Linked DNA regions of Homo sapiens. The protein of the gene in region 1 interacts with the protein of each later gene in a pairwise test. Each region holds a gene or a part of one and is shown on either strand. Other genes may lie near its edges.

Evidence for each region. Proteins that work in one complex are often made in the same cells at the same time.
Region 2: the proteins of RETREG3 (region 1) and TMEM120B interact in binary tests that used the Homo sapiens proteins (3 or more experiments, as listed by UniProt).
Region 3: the proteins of RETREG3 (region 1) and MAL2 interact in binary tests that used the Homo sapiens proteins (3 or more experiments, as listed by UniProt).
Region 4: the proteins of RETREG3 (region 1) and TMEM11 interact in binary tests that used the Homo sapiens proteins (3 or more experiments, as listed by UniProt).

What each region holds. Positions count from the first base shown.
Region 1 is NC_000017.11:42,599,375-42,602,874, forward strand, and holds part of RETREG3 (reticulophagy regulator 3), read right to left. Parts: intron 1-3,500. UniProt on the Homo sapiens protein: Endoplasmic reticulum (ER)-anchored autophagy regulator which exists in an inactive state under basal conditions but is activated following cellular stress.
Region 2 is NC_000012.12:121,719,252-121,722,751, reverse strand, and holds part of TMEM120B (transmembrane protein 120B), read right to left. Parts: intron 1-3,500. UniProt on the Homo sapiens protein: Necessary for efficient adipogenesis. Does not show ion channel activity.
Region 3 is NC_000008.11:119,218,363-119,221,862, forward strand, and holds part of MAL2 (protein MAL2), read left to right. Parts: intron 1-2,880; exon of another isoform or gene 2,881-3,045; intron 3,046-3,224; coding exon 3,225-3,395; intron 3,396-3,500. UniProt on the Homo sapiens protein: Member of the machinery of polarized transport. Required for the indirect transcytotic route at the step of the egress of the transcytosing cargo from perinuclear endosomes in order for it to travel to the apical surface via a raft-dependent pathway.
Region 4 is NC_000017.11:21,207,662-21,211,161, forward strand, and holds part of TMEM11 (transmembrane protein 11, mitochondrial), read right to left. Parts: exon of another isoform or gene 3,275-3,500; intron 1-3,274. UniProt on the Homo sapiens protein: Plays a role in mitochondrial morphogenesis.

The DNA of each region.
Region 1 (3,500 bases):
CTGGGCACAGTGGCTCATGCCTATAATCCCAGCACTTTGGGAGCCTTAGGTGGGTGGATAACCTGAGATCGGGAGTTTGAGACCAGCCTAGCTAACATGGAGAAACTCCATGTCTATTAAAAATACAAAATTAGCCGGGCGTGGTGGTGTATGCCTGTAATCTCAGCTACTCAGGAGGCTGAGGCAGGACAATCGCTTGAACCCAGGAGGCAGAGGTTGCAGTGAGCTGAGATTGTGCCATTGCATTCCAGCCTGGGTGACAGAGTAAGGCTCCGTCTCAAAAAAAAAAAAAAAAAATTATACAACTAACATGAATTCATGTTTATCGAAAAAAAAGTACAGGCATGGTGGCTCACGTCTGTAATCCCAGCACTTTGGGAAGCCAAGGCAGGTGGATCACCTGAGGTCAGGAGTTCGAGACAAGCCTGGCCAACATGGCGAAACCCCGTCTCTACTAAAAATACAAAAAATTAGCTGGGCATAGTGGCGGGCACCTGTAATCCCAGCTACTCAACAGGCTGAGGTGGGATGACAGCTTGAGTCCGGGAAACTGAGGTTGCAGCGAGCCGTTATCGTGCCACTGTACCCCAGCCTGGGTGACAGAGCGAGACCCTATCTCAAAAAACAAAAAAGCAAAACAGAAAAAACCACCTAAACACTAACAAATTGGTTTGTGGGGAAAAAAAGAGTTTAAAAAAAAAACAACAAATAAAACCACACACAACAGGCCACATGTGGTACCTAAAGCCTGTAATCCCAATACTTTGGGAGGCCGAGGCAGGAGGATCACTTGAGTCAAAGAGTTTGAGACCAGCTTAGGCAACACAGCAAGACCTCATCTCTACTGAAAAGAAAAACATTAGCTAGGTGTGGTGGTGCACGCTTGTACTCCCATTTACTTGGGAAGCTGAGGTGGGAGGATTGCTAGAGCCAGAAGGTTGAGGTTGCAGTGAGCTCTGATTGTGCCACTGCACTCCAGCTTGGGAGACAGAGCAAGACCCTGTCTCGAAAAGAAAAAAAAAAGTATCATTTATGACATTTATAAGAAAATTGGAAATGTGAACACTGACTAGAATCATTAATTTTTTGCATGTGATAATGATGGCAGATGTTTCTTAAAGTCTCTTTTTCAGAAAAATATACTGAAATACCTAGATTAAATGATATGACACATCAATAATTTGTGTCAAACAATAAGGAAGACGTAGAAAAGAACTGGGGTATGGAAGACACAAAATTGGCCAGGAATTGAAAAAAATAATATTATGTACATGGTGGCACACAATATTATTCTGCCTACTTACACATGTTTTAAGCTTTCCATAATAAAATATTTTTAAAATGATCCATTATCCACATATGTACTCTAAAAAGTGTGAAGACAGGCTATTCTCTTCATTAAAAAATTCACATATAAAAACACTATGGTTTTAAAACTTTTTCACATAATACATAGACAATTAGCCTGATGTGGTGATGAACTCCTGTGGTCTCATCAGCCATGAGGTGGAATGATCACTTGAGCTCAGGAGTTCCAGGGTACAGTGAGCCATGATCACACCACTGCAATCTAGCCTGGGTGACAGAGTGAAACCTTCTCTCAAAAAAAACAATGAATGGGCCAGGCGCAGTGGCTCAAACCTGTAATTCCAGCACTTTGGGAGGCTGAAGCAGGTAGATCACTTGACATCAGGAGTTCAAGACCAGCCTGGCCAACATGGTGAAACCCCATCTCTACCTAAAAATACAAAAATTAGCTAGGCATGGTGGCGGGTGCCCGTAATCCCAGCTACTCAGGAGGCTGAGGCAGGAGAACTGCTTGAATCCGGGAGGCGGAGGTTGCAGTGAGCTGAGATTGTGCCACTGCACTCCAGCCTGGGCAACACAGGAAGACTCCATCTCAAATAAAATAAAATAAACTAAGACGGTGGCTCAAGCCTGTAATCCCAACACTTTGGGAGGCTGAGGCAGGCAGATCACGAGATCAGGAGATCGAGACCATCCTGGCTAACACGGTGAAACCCTGGCTCTACTAAAAAATACAAAAAATTAGCCGGGAGTGGTGGTGGGCGCCTGGAGTCCCAGCTACTCGGGAGGCTGAGGCAGGAGAATGGCGTGAACCTGAGAGGCGGAGCTTGCAGTGAGCCGAGATCGCGCCACTGCACTCCAGCCTGGGCAACAGACAGAGCGAGACTCTCTCAAAAAAAAAAAAGAAAAGAAAAATAAACGAAAAATAAACTAAGAAGGTTCCAACTTTTTTTTTTTTTTTTTTTTTGAGACGGAGTCTTGCTCTTGTTGCCCAGGCTGGAGTGCAGTGGCGCGATCTCGGGTCACCACAACCTCTGCCTCCCAGGTTCAACGGATTCTCCTGCCTCAGCCTCCCAAGGTAGCTGGGATTACAGGCATGCGCCACCATGCCCGGCTGATTTGGCATTTTTAGTAGAGATGGGGTTTCTCCATTGTTGGTCAGGCTGGTCTTGAATTCCCGACCTTAGGTGACCTGCCTGCCTCGGCCTCCCAAAGTGCTGAGAATTATAGGCATGAGCCACTGCGCCCAGCCAAAAGTTTCCAATTTTTTGATGTAATAAAAGCTGAACTATACATCACTGAGCATGTTACTGGGTCAAAGGCATTAACTATTTTAAACAAATAGCTTTATTGGTCGGGCACCGTAGCTCACACCTGTAATCCCAGCCTTTGGGAGGCCGAGGCAGGTGGGTCACTTGAGGTCAAGAGTTCAAGACCACTTTGGCCAACATGGTGAAACTCCATCTCTACTAAAAATACAAAAATCAGCCAAGACATGGTGGTGCACGCCGGTAGTCCCAGCTACTTGGGAGGCTGAGGCAGGAGAACTGCTTGAATCTGGGAGGCAGAGGTTGCAGTGAGCTGAGATCATGCCACTGCACTCCAGTCTGGGCCACAGAGTAAGACTCCGTTTCAAAAAAAAAAAAGTAAGAAAATAGCTTTATTGAGATAATGGTTTGTATACGATAAAATTCTCTTTCAATTCATCTGCCAGCAGCAGAGATGAAAAAAAAATCACAATGCTGTACGACTAATAGCCTTATGTAATTTCAGAACATTTTCATCACTCCAAAAGAAACCCATACCCATTAGTATTCTTTCTCCATTTCCCCCAGCCCTGGAAAAGCTTCTTAAGTGGCTTAAAATATGTTACCAAACTACTTGCTAGAAAGGCTGTCCAATTTATGTTCCTATCAGCCATATGCCCATTTTTCCATATTTTCCCCAGAATTAATTATGATCATTAAAAATACTTAAGGCCAGGTGTGGAGGCTCACACCTGTAATCCCAGCACTTTGGGAGGCCAAGGTGGGTGGACTGCTGGAGCCCAGGAGTTCAAGACCAGCCTGGGCAACATGGTGAAACCTTGTTTCTACGAAAAATACAAAACAATTAACCAGGTGTGGTGACACACACCTGTAGTCCCCACTACCTGAGAGGCTGAGGTGGGAGGATGGCTTGAGCCCAGAGGT
Region 2 (3,500 bases), on another chromosome or scaffold:
GAATTTCCATGATAGCACCAACTGTGGTCTTTATCACTCCTTTGCAAGTCTTTATACTTGGACTACATACAATGTATCATTAAGCAATATACTGTGTTGTTTTCAATGTTTTTGCCTTTATTGCAAGTGCCACATTGTACATACCCCTCTGCAACTTTCTGCAGGATGTTAACACAGGTAGCTCAGTTTATTCACTCTCCTGCTTCACCTCTCTCTGGGTGCTCAGTGTAATGATCCATTCCCACGGACGTTCAGGTTGCCAGTTTTTAGTTGTGTTATAAAAACTACTATGCATGGCTGCTACATGAATTTTTAACTGTGTGAATATGTATTACTTATAAAAATGTAGAATGGAGGCCGGGCACAGTGGCTTACGCCTCTAATCCCAGCACTGTGGGAGGCTGAGGTGAGCAGATCACAAGGTCAGGAGTTCGACACTAGCCTGATCAACATGGTAAAACCCCGTATCTACTACAAATAAAAAAATTAGCCTGCTGTGGTAGCACACGCCTGTAATACCAACTACTCAGGGGGCTGAGGCAGAAGAATCGCTTGAACCCGGGAGGCAGAGGTTGCAGTGAGCCGAGATCGTGCCACTGTATTCCAGCCTGGGCAACAGAGCGAGACTCTATCTCAAAAAAAAAAAAAAAAGGCCAGGTGTGGTGGCTCACGCCTATAATCCCAGCACTTTGAGAGGCCAAAGCGGGCGGATCACAAGGTCAAGAGATCGAGACCATCCTGGCCAACATGGTGAAACTCTACTAAAAATACAAAAATTAGCTGGGCATGGTGGCACATGCCTGTAGTCCCAGCTACTCAGGAGGCTGAGGCAGGAAAATCGCTTGAACCCGGGAGGCAGAGGTTGCAATGAGCTAAGATTGAGCCACTGCACTCCAGCCTGGGCGACAGAGCAAGACGCTGTCTCAAAAAAAAAAAAAAAAAAAAAAGTAGAACTGATTCCATTCAAAAAAAAAGGAGGGCCAGGGCTGAATGCAGTGGCTTATGCCTGTAATCCCAGCACTTTGGGAGGCTGGAGTGGGCGGATCACGAGGTTAGGAGTTCAAGACCAGCTTGGCCAACATGGTGAAACCCCATCTACTAAAAATACAAAAATTAGCTGGGCGTGGTGGTGCCTGCCTGCAATCCCAGCTACTCGGGAGACTGAGGCAGAAGAATTGCTTGAAACCAGAAGGCGGAGGTTGCAGTGAGCCAAGATGGCACCACTGCACTCCAGCCTGGGCAACAAGAGTGAAACTCTTGGTTGAAAAAAAAAAAGGAGGACCAGGCACTCATACCTATAGTCTCAGCACTTTGGGAGGCTGAGATGGGAGGAATGCTTGAGGCCAGAAGTTCAAGACCAGCCTGGGCAACATGACAAAACCCCATCTCTACAAAAATTACAAAACTTAGCCAAGTGTGGTGGTGTGTGCCTGTAGTCCCAGATACTCAGGAGGCTGAAGAGGGAGAATCACTTGAACCCAGGAAGTTGAAGCTGCAGTGATCCATGATGGGACCACTGCATTCCAGCCTGGGCGACAAAGTGAGACCCTCTCTTACAAAACAACAACAAAAAGGAGAACTGCTCACATGAGCTCTGTGAGCTGTCATGCCCAGAGCATCTTCCCTACTTGTCTAATTACCATCCTCCGCATGTAGAAGACACAAACAAGCAAGTTTCCTTTGGAAGATTCAGGGATCTCTGCCACCTCTGCTGTCCTCTGAGACCCAAGCTCTGCCCCAGTGGGAAGATGAGGTTAATGACTCCTGTTCCCAGTACAGATGTGAAACATCTGAAGACACCTCCTTAACACATCTTGGCTGTCGGAAGATCCAGGACTGGGGAGTCAACATGTGTTGCAGGAATTGCTAGAGGAATCTCACGGCATTTACAGACATGGTTCTGGCCCAGGAGCATCAGAAGTCGCTGGGCAGTCCAGTAGACTGCAATAGGGCCATACCGCCACTTAAGTGTGGTGCCTTAGAGCTGTGCCTCTTGCTGGTGGTAAACTTTCAAGAGATTCCTTTTTTTTTTCTTTTGAGACACAGTCTTACTCTGTCGCCCAGTCTGGAGTGCAGTGACACAATCATGGCTGCTCACCACAGCCTTCACCTCCCTGGGCTCAGGCGATCCTCCTCTCTCAACCACCCGAGTAGCTGAAACTACAGGCCTGTGCCACCATGCCTGGCTAATTTTTGTATTTTTTGTAGAGACAGGGGTTTTGCCATGTTGCCTAGGCTGGTCTCAAACTCCTGAGCTCAAATGACCTGCCTATCTTGGCCTCCCAAGGTGCTGGGATTACAGGCATGAGCCACTGTGCCTGGACAAGAGATTACTTTTATATAGCTCTAAGAAATCAACTTCAAATAGACTTTCAGACGCTGACTATACTTAACCAGGACTCATCACCATAGAAACACCACCAAGGATGACTTCGCCTAACGTGTATGCGTCCTGTGCGGGACAGATTCTGAGTCATGTGTCAGAATCCATGAACGGTATGTTACGGGAGCGGTAAGTGGGGGTCTGTGCGTGGGAGGCACGCATTTGGGTGGCATGAAAACACAATGGTTAAGTGATTTGATGCTGCCATCAAGTTGCCCGAGTTCAGATCCAGAGCCTGCCACTTATTAGCTGAGTTATGTAATCCCTCTGTGCCTCGGTGTCATCAGCTGTGAAAGAGCTAGGAGATGAGGTGCATGCAGCAGGCTAGGCACTGTCACAAAGATGTGACATCATCAAGAATGTAGTGTGGGCCGGGCAAGGTGGCTCATGCCTATAATCCCAGCACTCTGGGAGGCCGAGGTGGGCAGATCACCTGAGGTCAGGAGTTCGAGACCAGCTGGCCAACATGGTGAAACCCTGTCTCTACTAAAAATACAAAAATTAGCCAGGTGTGGTGGCATGTGCCTGTAGTCCTAGCTACAGCTACTCAGGAGGCTGAGGCAGGAGAATCACTTGAACCCGAGAGGCAGAGGTTGCAGTGAGCCGAGACAGAGCCATTGTACTCCAGCCTGGACAACAAGAGCAAAACTCCGTCTCAAAAAAAAAAGAATGCAGTGTGGCCTAACATGCAACTGTGAACCACCCCCTTAAACTACCCCCGTTAGCAATTTAAGCAGTGTCCAATCGATGCCACTGTTTCCCTTGAAGAAAAAAACATTTTTTGAGACAGGGTCTCACTCTGTCACCCAGGCTGGGGTGCAGTGGCAGGATCTCAGCTTACTGCAACCTCCACTTCCTGAACTTAGGTAATCCTCCCACTTCAGCCTCCCAAGTAGGTGGGACCATGGGTGCACGCCACCATGCCTAGCTAATTTTTGTGGTTTTTTGTAGAGTCAGGGTCTTACTACATTGCCCAGGCTGGTCTCAAACTCCTGGGCTCAAGCGATCTACCTGCCTCAGCCTCCTGTTGGGATTACAGGCATAGGCCACTACACCCAGCCAACAATTTCTATTAGCCCCCCAAAAGGTGCCTGTCCAGCATCCCTCTCTCTGTTTT
Region 3 (3,500 bases), on another chromosome or scaffold:
ATAAGAACGGTTAGTCTATACTATTTTACAGTATAGCCTCTGCTGTCAAAGCCTTGGTCTGTCTTGAAAGCTTACTCTGAAGCCTGCCTCCCCTGCCTACCTTTCCAGATTCTTCCCATTATATTTCTTCTCTCCTCTCCCCTCCCAGCCTCTCAGAACACACTGTGTTGAGCTCTTTTTATAGCACCCACCGCAATCTGCTCCTGAATCAGTTTAATAGTGTCTATTTCTTCCTTATTTCAAGCTCCTGGAGATGGAACCTTGCCTTTTTTGTTTTTTCTTGAGTGTTCTTCTATAGTACCTAGCAGTAGGTTCGGGGCTGGCCTGTTTGAGGTCCAGTCTGGGTTTAGTAAATGCTGTGTTGAATTCCAAAGGATCATATAGCCTCCTCTTTAGAGGTGTGAATGTATCATCATCCCTAACTCATTATGTTTATCTATTTGGCTCTGCCTGTCCCTAACAAACAGTGGCCAATTGCTTTTTATTATCCTTTATATTTGCACATAGGTTCTCAGGAAATAACTCAGAAGAGATACTTAATGTATATTTCTTAAACTGTATTTAAAGTTATGTAGGTTATTCTTTGTGGGAGAGTAAGAAAAGACTACCAGAAAGAAGAAAGTGGAAAAAAAGGAAAGATTGATCCACTGAAGACATACTTATATCGCCTTCAGATATTTATTTAATAGTATGTAAAGGTAAATAATATTAGGAACAAGTTTTTTCTTTTATAGGCACTGATAAGGTGGTGGTTAAATGTTTAAGATGCACTGATATTCATTAGATTTATTTCATAACACTTTCTGGATCAATTGTTAATTTTTTATTTGACTTTAGGAGTTGAGGTATACACCACAACTATACATTTTTTTAGACTGGTGATTTGATTATCATTGATCAAGTGATCATTTATGCTTTCAAAAATGTTTCTTCAAAGTAGTAACAAATTATATGATTGGGCCTTTTCTTGAAGCTTGAATTAAAACTTGTGTTTTTAACTTTCAGTGACTTGTGGAGTAATTTGGATATCTAGATACTGAAATGCAATGTACAGATGAGTATTGATTTTTAATATTTGGAGCTCCAACTGTTCTCACATGAGCACTAGCTTGTTTACTAAGCAAATAATTTAAGAGCGTGCTCTATCACTCTCCCTGGGTGTGTGTGTGTGTGTGTGTGTGTGTGTGTGTGTGAGAGAGAGAGACAGAGAGAGAGAGAGAGAGATTGATTCTCACTTGCTTGAGGTGTCTTCAGGGCAGGTATGTAGCCTAAGGTTTTGTGCTGCCAAATCTAGCATAGTACCTGACTGATGGTTAGGAAAGGATTACTGTGTAGATTAATAAATGGCTTGGGATGCAGAGACATATAAAGCAGTATGCTGCCAAGAAGGCCTGGTAGTGCAGATGGAGAGCCAAAGGGATTTAATTACAGTGTATCTCACTGATGTAACAAAGCCCAGTAGGGAGGTTGCCCAGAGGAGGGAGGCATAACTGAGCAGGGGTGGATCTCAGGAAAAATGTTGTAAATGATGTGCTCAAGATTAGATGTGAGTGGGAGAATCTCAAGTACACATAGGGAGGGAATGACATTCACGGCATGCAAGTAACAGGCCACTCTGATGTGAAAGATCTTTGTCTTGGAACTGTGGATTTTTTTTCTCCCCCTAATACAAAATGTGAGGGGCATAGTGGCAAGAGACAAGGATGAAAAAGACATGTCAGATCACAAATGGCTTGGAATGCCAGGCATGGTAGTATGGAGGAGACCAATGGTGATAGATGCATAAAACTCATCTTCACACCATTTCTCCTGCGGTGTTCTCTCAAGCCTAGAGGCCCATTCCAGAAATCTGGGTATTTTCCTTATCTGTCCTTTTTCTGTTGTGTCCCACATCTGATCAGTTACCAACTATTATCATGTCTACTTCTAAATTTCACTCTAATCCATTCCTTTCTCTCTGTCCTCAGTGTTCTGATTCTTACACTCTGTTGGTCTAACAGTCTCCTGTGTTACCCAATGTTTGTGAAATCTCTGTGTTGATAGAGCTGAGAAACACAGAGATGTGCTGCCTCACCATCCACCCTTTCCTCCCCAGTCCATTCTCACATTCTAGCCAGAGAGAAATTTCTAAAGGCAAATCTTGACCATGCTAGTTTCTGCTCAAGATGATCTTGGCTTTGTCATCGCCCTTAGGTGAAGTTCAGTTCCTTGGCCCGAGCTTCAGCACCTCCTCGCTCAGTCTCCAGTACAGTTCTCTCCGTTCCCCACCAGCACATGCCCCTCCTGTCTTGCTGAGCTTTGTTCTTCACCTATGCGGGGCTACTCTCAGCTCCTGCCATGGAACCCCCCTTTCCTCCCTCTGCTTTACCCCATAGCCCTGTGCTTTGGATTGTTGCTTCTAGGAAGTATTTTCAAATCTGGATTTATAGCCCTTGCTGTGTGGACCTGCAGTGCCCAGTATTTGCCCAATTGTGACATTTATGAAGCAGCTTTTTAATCGCTTGCTTACTTGTCTCTTTCCTCTAATAGACTGTGAGTTCTGTGGTGACAGAAACCAAGTGTAACCTGTTTACCATTTGATTCCCAGCACCTGGCATAGTGCCTGAAATGTAGTAGGTATTTATTGATACTTAGATCCATAGATATGTGAAGTACTTATTCCTATGTCGAACACATAATACTCAATAAATGATGGTAGTTTTTATTGTTTACCGCCATATACAACAGCTGCAACTATTATTCTATCCATTTTTTTTACTAACTCTCTAAGAAGCAATGAGATCAAAAGCTGGTTTATAGTGATGTGAAGAGCAACTTCAAGGAGAGGAATTGGAGACCAAGCAAAGATGAATTTGTTAAAATGGTTGACTGAAAAAATACCTTCATTGAAAAGGTGGTAGTCAGAGAATCAGTAAAGTCAAAGGAAGGTATTTGTCAATGATGAAGGAATACTGGACATGTACATGGGTTGAAGAAGCGAGTCCAACCTGAAGATACAGGTGTGGAGTTGGATCAGTTCTCCAAGCAGGAGGATTGATCTTGCACCTGAGGAAAGAAGGCATCTTACATAATAAGGGGAAAATCGAAGGGATGGGGTTGCTGGAATATGTGCAGGGGTCTGGGAGGAAAATGAAGGCAATGCTGAGGGTAATACAAGCATGTTTAATTCTGTTGTGTGAAAGGTATCTTTTAAGCAAACCAATTACCCTCTTTTTCTCTTTCAGCTGTTCGGGGGTCTTGTCTGGATTTTGGTTGCCTCCTCCAATGTTCCTCTACCTCTACTACAAGGATGGGTCATGTTTGTGTCCGTGACAGCGTTTTTCTTTTCGCTCCTCTTTCTGGGCATGTTCCTCTCTGGCATGGTGGCTCAAATTGATGCTAACTGGAACTTCCTGGTAAGGACTTTTTATTTTAAGTCTATTGCAGGAAGATGGGAGAAACCTGTATCCTATTCTGTTCTGAAATGCCAGAGTCCCAGTTCTGTTGCCCCTAATGGGAGA
Region 4 (3,500 bases), about 21 Mb from region 1:
CGGATTACCTAAGGTCAGGAGTTTCAGACCAGCCTGGCCAACATGGTGAAACCCCGTCTCTACTAAAAATACAAAAATTAGCCAGGTGTGGTGACAGGCGCCTGTAATCCCAGCTACTCAGGAGGCTGAGGCAGGAGAATCGCTTGAACCTAGGAGGTAGAGGTTGCAGTGAGCCAAGATCACACCACTGCACTCCAGCCAGGGGGACAAGAGCGAGACATTGTCTCAAAAGAAACAAGAAAATAGATCAACAGTGGTTTTCTTTGGATGGTGGCCTAATAGGTGACTTGTCAATTTCTTCATGCTTTTCTATATTTTTTAAAAAAAAGTGTTTCTTTTTTTTTTTTTTGAGACGGAGTCTCGCTCTGTCGCCCAGGCTCAAGTGCAGTGGCGTGATCTTGGCTCACTGCAAGCTCCGCCTCCTGGGTTCACGCCATTCTCCTGCCTCAGCCTCCAGAGTAGCTGGGACTACAGGCAATCGCCACCACGCCCGGCTAATTTTTTGTATTTTTAGTAGAGACGGGGTTTCACTGTGTTAGCGAGGATGGTCTCAATCTCCTGACCTCGTGATCCGCCCACCTCGGCCTCCCAAAGTGTTGGGATTACAGGCATGAGCCACTGCGCCCGGCCAAAGTGTTTCTTTTATAACAGGAAAAATAATTATAAACTTATTCTTAAAAAGAAAAATTCTGTTCAACCCTATATCCCTTGAGGTAAAGGGACCAGATACCCGTGGGAGGGCCTCCTTCCACTGCCAAGAAGAGCGGGAGGTGGCTCACTTCCTGCTCCAGAACCTTCTCGGTGTCCATGAAAGGCAGAAGTCTGGACGCGGGCAGCTTCTCATGGCTGAGGTGTCATGCTGGTGTGTACCTGTAGTCCTGCCCAAAAAGAGGAGGGCAGTTCCAGCTCCGTTTCCCTTGAGCAAACACTGGCTAAGCTGCCAGGCCAGCCACCAATCACCTTCCCAGTTCTGAGAGACCCAGCAGAGGCAAATCTGAGTGGAAGCATCCACATTAGGCCCCTTCTTGGAGTGGGGCCCGGGCTCACAGGCAGGCCTGAAGCTCCATGAGGGCAGAGGCTGCATTTTCATCGTAGTTTCCCCAGCACTGGGCCTGAATGTAACAGGTTCCCAAAAGACACAGGTTGGAGGGACATTTGTAATGATTACAGACATGAGCCACAGGAGTCACAGGAGGAGAAAAACAATTATGGTTATTAAGAGAACTGGTACCAGAAAAGTCAACCCATCCGTCAGGCTGCTTTTCACTTAGTGAAAGGGTCACTTGATCACCTATGATACAGGAGGTGCTGGGCTGGACCTCCACCCGCTTCTGCCTAATTAAGCCCTGCTTCTTTGGGACCCACAGAAAGCAGAGGACTGAAGCAGTGAAAGCCCGTGCCCCAGACTCAAAGGCACGGGCATGCGGCCCCATGGCCTGAGGACGGCTCCCACAGGCCAAGGAACTTTCACAGGACACCCAGCCCTTTCGTCTGCTTCAGAGGACACTTTCCTATTCTGCGCACTGGTAACTCAGCAGCCCTTCTATCTGGGGAGCAGGAACACGGCGCACCAAGTGTGGGAGTCGAGAGGGTGGATTCAAGTTCCCTCTCGGCTGCCTACTGGCTTTGTGTCCTAGGGCAAAACACCCGGCCCCTCTGAGCCAGTTTCCCATGTTGTCAAACGGGGCCAGAGGCCCTGGCTCTCCCAGAGGACTGCAGTGAAGATGGGAACAGTCGCCAAGCACTGCCCCTCTGCCTAAGACACATGTGGCTGTTGAAATTTAAATTAATTAAAATTAGACATCTTAAAAAATTCAGTTCCTGGCCGGGCACAGTGGCTCACGCCTGTAATCCCAGCACTTTGGGAGGCCAGGGCGGGTGGATTCCTTGAGCCCACAAATTTTAAGACCAGCCTAGACAACATGGTGAAAACTCTGCCTCTACAAAAAATACAAAAATGAGCTGGGCGTGGTGGTACATGCCTGTGGTCCCAGCTACTCGGGAGGCTGGGGTGGGAGAATGGTTTGAGCCAGGGAGACGGAGGTTGCAGAGATCCGAGATCATACCACTGCACTCCAGCCTGGGTGACAGAGCCAGACCTGTCTCATAAAATAAATAAATAAATGAAACCTCAGTTCCTCAGAGCCACACGTGGCTAATGGCTGCCCTAATGGACTGCAGGGACACGCCAGGAGTCTGTCATGCCAGAAACTCCTACTGGACAGCCCTGCTCTGAAGAACTGTTATGACTACTACATGGCTGTCAGCTTTTCCTGAGAACTGTGCCCATAAAGTGGCTGCTGGCACCAGGGCGGAACACCGTGGCAGTCAGGAGGTTCCCGGGTGTGCTCGGTCATGGAGTGCTGCCCAACTCCACCCCCCGCACCTCGCTCATTGAAGAACAGGTGCACACCGACAAGCCGGGGCAGAGGAGCCACCTCCCCACCTCCGTGGACCCAGGCGCAGCCCTCCCCTCTTCAGAAAGGGGAGCCTTCCCTGGAACATGACCTAAAGGACTGAACCACTGAGACACAAATTAATGCACTTGGAATCCAGGCTGCTTGAGTGAACCAAGGAAAACAGAAATTCTTGAAAACTTGAAGGCACATCAATACTGAAGAGGATGAACCCCATCCTTACCTACGAATCCAACTTCTGCGGCCAGAACATGTGGCTTTGCCTTTGTTAAAGAGCTGAGCAGAATCCCACAACCAGTGGCTAAACCCCCACACACTTGGGTGCAGATCCCGTATCTGCTCATCTCATCCCAGCCAGAAGGAAACAAAAACTCCCGCCACACACAAAAGCAAGCATGGAGTCTTTCAAGAGAGATTAAATACTCCCAAAGCCTGAGAGTCTAAAAGGGAAGGATCAGATCAGAAAGGGAAGCTGTCACCCCGGGACCATGACCCAACCTGCCCCCGGGGCCTGTGCTCCATCTGCTCACTGGATGAACGTGTAAGGGCCACCTGGGACCAGGCACACCTGAGTTCACAAAGAAGAGGACAGGTCCTGGGGAATAAAGCATGGCAAGGAAAGCCATGAAAGTCAGCCCAGGGAACTGGCTGCCTATAAAACGCTGGAGCAGATGGCCGCGCAAGCCAGGGGAGGGGCAGGCCACAACAAATAACTTCGCGCTAAACCTGAACTTTTAGCCCCGTGCATCTGGCCCTCTGCACACCCCAGGTTGCCTCATATCATGCTCAGAAGCAGATCAAGTACATCTTCACGTGATTATAAAAACAGGAACTCAAGAGCACACAGCTATACTCACATTCCAACAATCACGGAGGGCTCTGGGAGGTTCAGGGGCCCTGAGACAGTGAAGCCGAGCAGCCCAAGTAAGACAGGCAGGGCTGTCTGTGAGCTGGTCCGGGCTGGCACACGGTGGCAGAACACAGATACCTGCACTGTGCTTTCCTAGATGGGCAAGTGTGTCTCAAAGACGCCGACAGGACAAGTGGCAATCTGTTTGATGTGCTCGTTGCCAGTGTGCTGAA